Regions from separate parts of the Homo sapiens genome. Here region 1 is linked to region 2. The links come from fine-mapping of genetic effects on gene expression. A gene starts in region 2. The other region holds a variant in brackets. All regions are shown on one strand. Distances are between the middles of the regions.

Region 1 (2,910 bases), 150 kb before region 2:
TGCTTATCAGCTTAAGGAGATTTGGGGTTGAGACGATGGGGTTTTCTAAATATACAATCATGTCATCTGCAAACAGGGACAATTTGACTTCCTCTTTTCCTAATTGAATACCCTTTATTTCTTTCTCCTGCCTGATTGCCCTGGCCAGAACTTCCAACACTATGTTGAATAGGAGTGGCGAGAGAGGGCATCCCTGTCTTGTGCCAGTTTTCAAAGGGAATGCTTCCAGTTTTTGCCCATTCAGTATGATACTGGCTGTGGGTTTGTCATAAATCGCTCTTATTATTTTGAGATACGTCCCATCAATACCTAATTTATTGAGAGTTTTTAGCATGAAGGGCTGTTGAATTTTGTCAAAGACCTTTTCGGCATCTGTTGACACAATCATGTGGTTTTTGTCTTTGGTTCTGTTTATATGCTGGATTACGTTTATTGATTTGTGTATGTTGAACCAGCCTTGCATTCCAGGGATGAAACCCACTTGATCATGGTGGATAAGCTTTTTGATGTGCTTCTGGGTTTGGTTTGCCAGTATTTTATTGAAGATTTTTGCATTGATGTTCATCAGGGATATTGGTCTAAAATTATCTTTTGTTGTTGTGACTCTCCCAGTCTTTGGTATCAGGATGATGCTGTCCTCATAAATTGAGTTAGGGAGGATTCCCTCTTTTTCTATTAATTGGAATAGTTTCAGAAGGAATGGAACCAGCTTCTCTTTGCACCTCTGGTAGAATAGGACTGTGAATCCGTCTGGTCCTGGAGTTTTTTTTGGTTGGTAGGCTCTTAATTATTGCCTCAATTTCAGAGTCTGTTCTTGGTCTATTGAGGGATTCAACTTCTTCCTGGTTTAGTCTTGGGAGGGTGCATGTATCCAGGAATTTATCCATTTCTTCTAGATTTTCTAGTTTATTTGCGTAGAGTTGTCTATAATACTCTCTGATGGTAGTTTGTATTTCTGTGGGATCAGTGGTGATATCCCCTTTATCATTTTTTATTGCATCTATTTGATTCTTCTCTCCTTTCTTCATTAGCCTTGCTAGCGGTCTGTCAATTTTGTTGATCTTTTCAAAAAACCAGCTCCTGAATTCATTGATTTTTTGAAGGGTTTTTTGTGTCTCTGTCTCCTTCAGTTGTGCTCTGATCTTAGTTATTTCTTGTCTTTTGCTAGCTTTTGG[A/G]TGCGTTTGCTCTTGCTTAGCTTGTTCTTTTCATTGTGATGTTAGGGTATCAATTTTAGATCTTTCCTGCTTTCTCTTGTGGGCATTTAGTGCTATAAATTTCCCTCTACACACTGCTTTAAGTGTGTCCCAGAGATTCTGATATGTCCAGGTTGCAGCAGAGAGAGAGGTTTAATCATAGGGCTGCCAAATGAGGAAACAGAATGAAAACTCAAGTCTGTGTCCCTGAGCAGTTTGTGACTAGTGATTTTTAAGGGTTTTGGAGGGGGCCAGAGTATGGAGAGCATTGATTGGTCGAAGAGTGCAAGGTGAAGTCGTGGTATAGGGAGATGAAGAAACTATATTCTCATGCTGAATTGGTTACTTTGTGGGGATCTTCAAACTGGTTGGTGTCAGCTGTTCTGCTGGAACTCACGATCTGCTTAGGCAATTCTTAAAAGCCTTATGATTCTGATGTCAGAAATCCCATCCACAAGAACAATGGGGATGCAAATGGTCAGTATCTAGTGCTAAGTAACTTTCAGTTACAAGGAAGTGGGTCAAAGTGCTGCCTGACTAATAGTTAACCATACTTCTGTCCAGAATTCTTGTTTAACTCTATAAGGATGGCTTGAGATATAGTATATCTTTTATAATTTACATTTCTCTTTTTCATTATATTAGTTTGCTAGGGCTGCTATAACACAGTTCCACAAACTGGCTGGCTTAAACTGGACATTTATTGTCTCACAGTTCTGGAAGCTGAAAGTCCAAGATGAAGGTGTCCACAGGGTTGATACCTTCTGAGGGCTGCGAGGAAAGAATTTAACACAGACGTCTCTCCTTGGTTTGTAAATGGCTTTCTTTTCCTTATGTGTCTTCACATTGTCTTCACATTCTCTGTCCTTGTTCAGTTAGGACACCTGTCATATTGGATTAGGGTCTACGCTTATGACCTTATTTTAACTTGATTTCCTCTGTAAAGATCCTGCCTCCAAATAAGGATACATTTGGAGATACCAGAAGTTAGAATTCTTGTAAATTTTGTGGGGACCAAAATTCATGTATTTTTGAAATATGAATTAAACCCATAACATGGGTGGAGTTAAGAATCTTGTCATATATTTAAAGGCCATTAGTATTTCTTCCGCTGTTCTTGTCATTTGCCTGTTTTTTTCTAGAGGATTGTTGCCTGACACTGGAAGAAATTAATTTCTGTTCCACACATTTGTATTGCCATCTTTATCATATATTAAATTCCAATATTAGGATGTCTTGTTTGGCCCTTTTTATTCCGTTCCATTGGTCTCTGTCTATACATGTGCCAAGTACATACCACTTTAATTATTAAGGACTTATATTATGTTTTAATATCAAGTAAGGCTAGCCTTTCCTTATTACTCTTCTTTTTTGTTGTTTTTCTGTGTATTCTTGTTTTTTTTCCATACAAGCCTTAGAATCAACTTAGTTTCAGAAAATTTTCTGTGTTTTTCTTGGGGGGCTGTGTGGGATGGTCAGAGAAAGGATTACATTAATTAGTTGGCTTGAGAGAATTGACATCTTCATGGAAACTACTGTCTCAGAATACATTGTCTTTCTATATATTCAAGTCCAGTTTTCCTCAAGAATCATAACATTTTAATCATATAGCTTATATATATATATAGTTTAAGCTTTTCTTTGCTACTGTTATAAATGGAATTTTTCTCTTGAAGAATATCTTCTTACTGGTGGTTGCTTGTACATAAAGACTACT
Region 2 (2,910 bases):
AAAAAAAGTTGAGAACTTTCAGAAGAATTCACTATAAACAATTCCCAATTTTTAGTTCCTCGCTCCCTTTGAATGGAATACTCAAAGGTTTAATTTGACCTCCTTGACAACTAGCCCTTTTTATGGGGATGAAAATAGATCAGTGCATGTGATGTGTCATTACACTCGAATATTTCGCACAGTAACCGCGCCAGAAGCATTCGTTAAATCGGCACTATCAACTTTAATTCTTACTCCTCCCCGCTGCCATCTAAGATAGGACAGCCCTCTATTTTCGCTATTCTGGAGTAGCCAACATTCCAGTCTGCAGGACTGAAGTGAAATTTAATCGTTCGTATCTTTTTAAGGGAACCTTTTTACAGCGAACTTGGAAAAGTAATGCCAGCCATACGTTGAATGACACCATGTTGGGAGTTGTAAAACCACAAACTCAGTGCCTGGCCGTCCGGGAGATGGAATTCCAACAGCGGCTCCTCATTGCACCAAACTAACAATTTCTCTACACGACAGTGCATCTTAATGGGGATGGTTACACACTTTTTAAATAGTCAACACTGTCCCCTCCAACTCCCAGCCGGACATGACACTCCTTCCCCACCCAAGAACTCCAGAGCGAAGGAAGTCTTTTGGCCACCTTAGTGCCTCCTCCCAGCCAGCACCAATGACTGACAGTGTCCCCAGGCGCCCAGCGAGGGTCCCAAGCGAGGCCAGGACCCAAAGGCTGCCCAAGTCTCCGCGTCCCAGGACTTCCTGAAGTCGTAGCCCGGTGCCCCCGCACCCCGCCTCCTCCGACTCCTGCGGCCCGGTTCCTTAGTCCAAACCCGCTGTCCCGGCCCCGCGGCCCGCCAGTCCCCTCGATTCTTCCCCAGACAAACCCGGAACCGGGCGCGGGCTCAGGCCCAAGCCAGGCCGCGGGCTCCCCCAGCGCTCGCCCCACCTCCCGAGCCGCTCCGGGACAGGCGCCCGGGCGCAGACGGGAAAGCGCGGGGGGCCTGGTCCGGGAGCCCACTTCCTGGCCGGGGCAGGGCAGGACTCACCTTCGTACTGCAGATCCACCAGGACTAGCAGGAAGGGGAATACCGAGCCCAGCCGGCTGGTCACGGAGCCGGGGGCCACCATGTCCGAGGGCTCGCGAGTGAAGAGGAGGAAAGGTGTGTGGCCCACCAGCACGCGCCGGCGCTCCGGCAGCAGCTGCGCCCGCCCGCCGTCGGCTCTCGCTCAGGCCTCAGTGGCTCTGGAGCCCAGCAGAGGAAGGCAGCGGTGGGCGGGGCCCGGGCGACGCTACGCCCCAGAGCGCCGCCGCCATCCAATCGCCTTCTTTCTGGCGGCTTTCCTCCCGGGCTCGCCGGGGTCGTGGTTCGCGCTGATAGGCTGCGGAGGCCGCCGCCCCGCCCCGTCCCTGATAGGATAACGTGGAAGCACGAGACGAGGCTGCGCCCGCCGGTCGCAGAGCTGTCAGCAAGCTCCAAACCGCGGCTGCCGCCCGGAGGGAAGCAGACGGGGAGTCGGTGGCGGCCGCCGAGTCCGCATGCGCAGGCTGCAAAGGCCCTTTTGGGCCGGTCCCGCCGCGCTAGGTTGGCGAGTGGGACTATTTGATCCTTTCCAGGTTCGCCAGCGTGGTGTTACGAGAGGAAAGCGCAGCCGCAGCGTACGAATGGGAAGGCCAAACACGGTCCCGGGGAGTCTGAGGGAAGCTGCAGGGCGCCTGGAATTGGGGTCTCGAGTGAGCCGGTAAAAACCGCCTCCCGCTGAGCGTCCCGGAACAAATACTGTCTGAACTGAGCCGTAAGCAAGAAACGGTCAGGAGAAGCTGGGGCGATCTGATGATTAGAACATTTCAGGGACTACCAGAGAGAAGTGCGTAATTGCTCTAAGGCAGGTAGGTAATTGGCCTGGAAACTTGGGAACGCCCCGCCCCCCACCCCGACTTTCAGCAAACCACCGTGCCCAGGAAAAAGAGCGATTGTGGAAGACCCTGTGAAGAAGAGACCAGGAAGGCACTGTGGCTTAAGAGAGCAAGGCGTTCCTGAATGCAGCCAACATCAACTGGTAAACAAAAAACTGTGAGAACGGATCCTGAATCTTGCGCTTACCAGGGGAAATTCAGGAGAGATATGAACCTGAGCAAGATGAGGTTGAAGTTACTCAATGCGGCATTAAGCCTGTTCACGGCCACTTCCTCCGGCGTCACCAACACACACACTGTACACCAGCAGTATTTTTACACGGGGTATGTGTGTTAAGTACTATCAGGTGGATAATTATTACTTCACCTGTATTTGCTGCCTTGATACCATTAGAGAAACTCATGAATTATAAATAGCATAGTGAATTTGTGATTCCCTGAAGATATACTAAGGTGGACTTTTAAAAAGGCTTCTATTCCAAAGGGAACTAATATGGAGGAAATGGTTTCGAGAAAGAAAAAAGAAAAAACGGAGTCCTTGATTAGTTGTGGGGAAGGCAACATAATGTAATGTGAAGAATAAAGGAGTCAGATCCAGGAAACCCCATAACTATTATGTAAGTTATCTTCATCTGTAAAGTGGTTAGGATCCTGATAGTCTCAAAGGTTTGTTTTGAGGTTTCATGAAGCAGATAAATATTCTTGTAAATTGTAGAATGTTATACCAGTGTTACTCATTATTCTAACAAGAGCAGAGTAGTGAAGAGAGGCTCCTTCAGAAATTCCTTGGGATTTTTTTTTTTTTGGCTTCTGTTTTTTTATATCACAAGGTAGTGTCTCTGAAAAATGGTAGATGATTTCAATGTCCACAAATATGCAGGTGTAGACATTCAATTGAGGTACTGTACCCAAGGCAGCCAGCAAAATGCTGAACATAGAAAATAACTTTGTAAACAAAATGCAATATTTCTAGACAGTGAGTTATCACCAGTGTGCTGCCTATG

Alleles and levels. Alleles are on the strand shown, and positions count from the first base shown. SD is a standard deviation of normalised expression in the study named.
In carriers of allele A in region 1, the expression in whole blood of the gene that starts at base 1,236 in region 2 tends to be lower than with G alone (small effect, 0.25 SD a copy in Lepik 2017).

The links. PIP is the estimated chance that this variant, and not a neighbour inherited with it, causes the effect.
Region 1: its variant is the best candidate, but not a certain one, in a credible set for the expression of DNAJC3 in whole blood (Lepik 2017, PIP 0.50).

Annotation. Positions count from the first base shown.
Region 1 is chr13:95,826,550-95,829,459 of GRCh38, reverse strand. The region is part of intron 38 of UGGT2 (UDP-glucose glycoprotein glucosyltransferase 2); the gene reads left to right. Among named protein-coding and RNA genes, the nearest start is that of DNAJC3, 150 kb to the right of the region's middle. The variant A/G (reference allele first, on the strand shown) is at 1,176.
Region 2 is chr13:95,675,465-95,678,374 of GRCh38, reverse strand. It overlaps DNAJC3 (DnaJ heat shock protein family (Hsp40) member C3), which reads right to left and starts at 1,236. Exons shown (of 12, transcript NM_006260.5): 1 at 1,038-1,236. The coding sequence starts at 1,119. It overlaps DNAJC3-DT (DNAJC3 divergent transcript), which reads left to right and starts at 1,450. Exons shown (of 2, transcript NR_132117.1): 1 at 1,450-2,523. RefSeq lists silencers at 856-945, 1,176-1,415 and enhancers at 1,056-1,105, 452-1,298, 1,936-2,035, 1,299-2,146.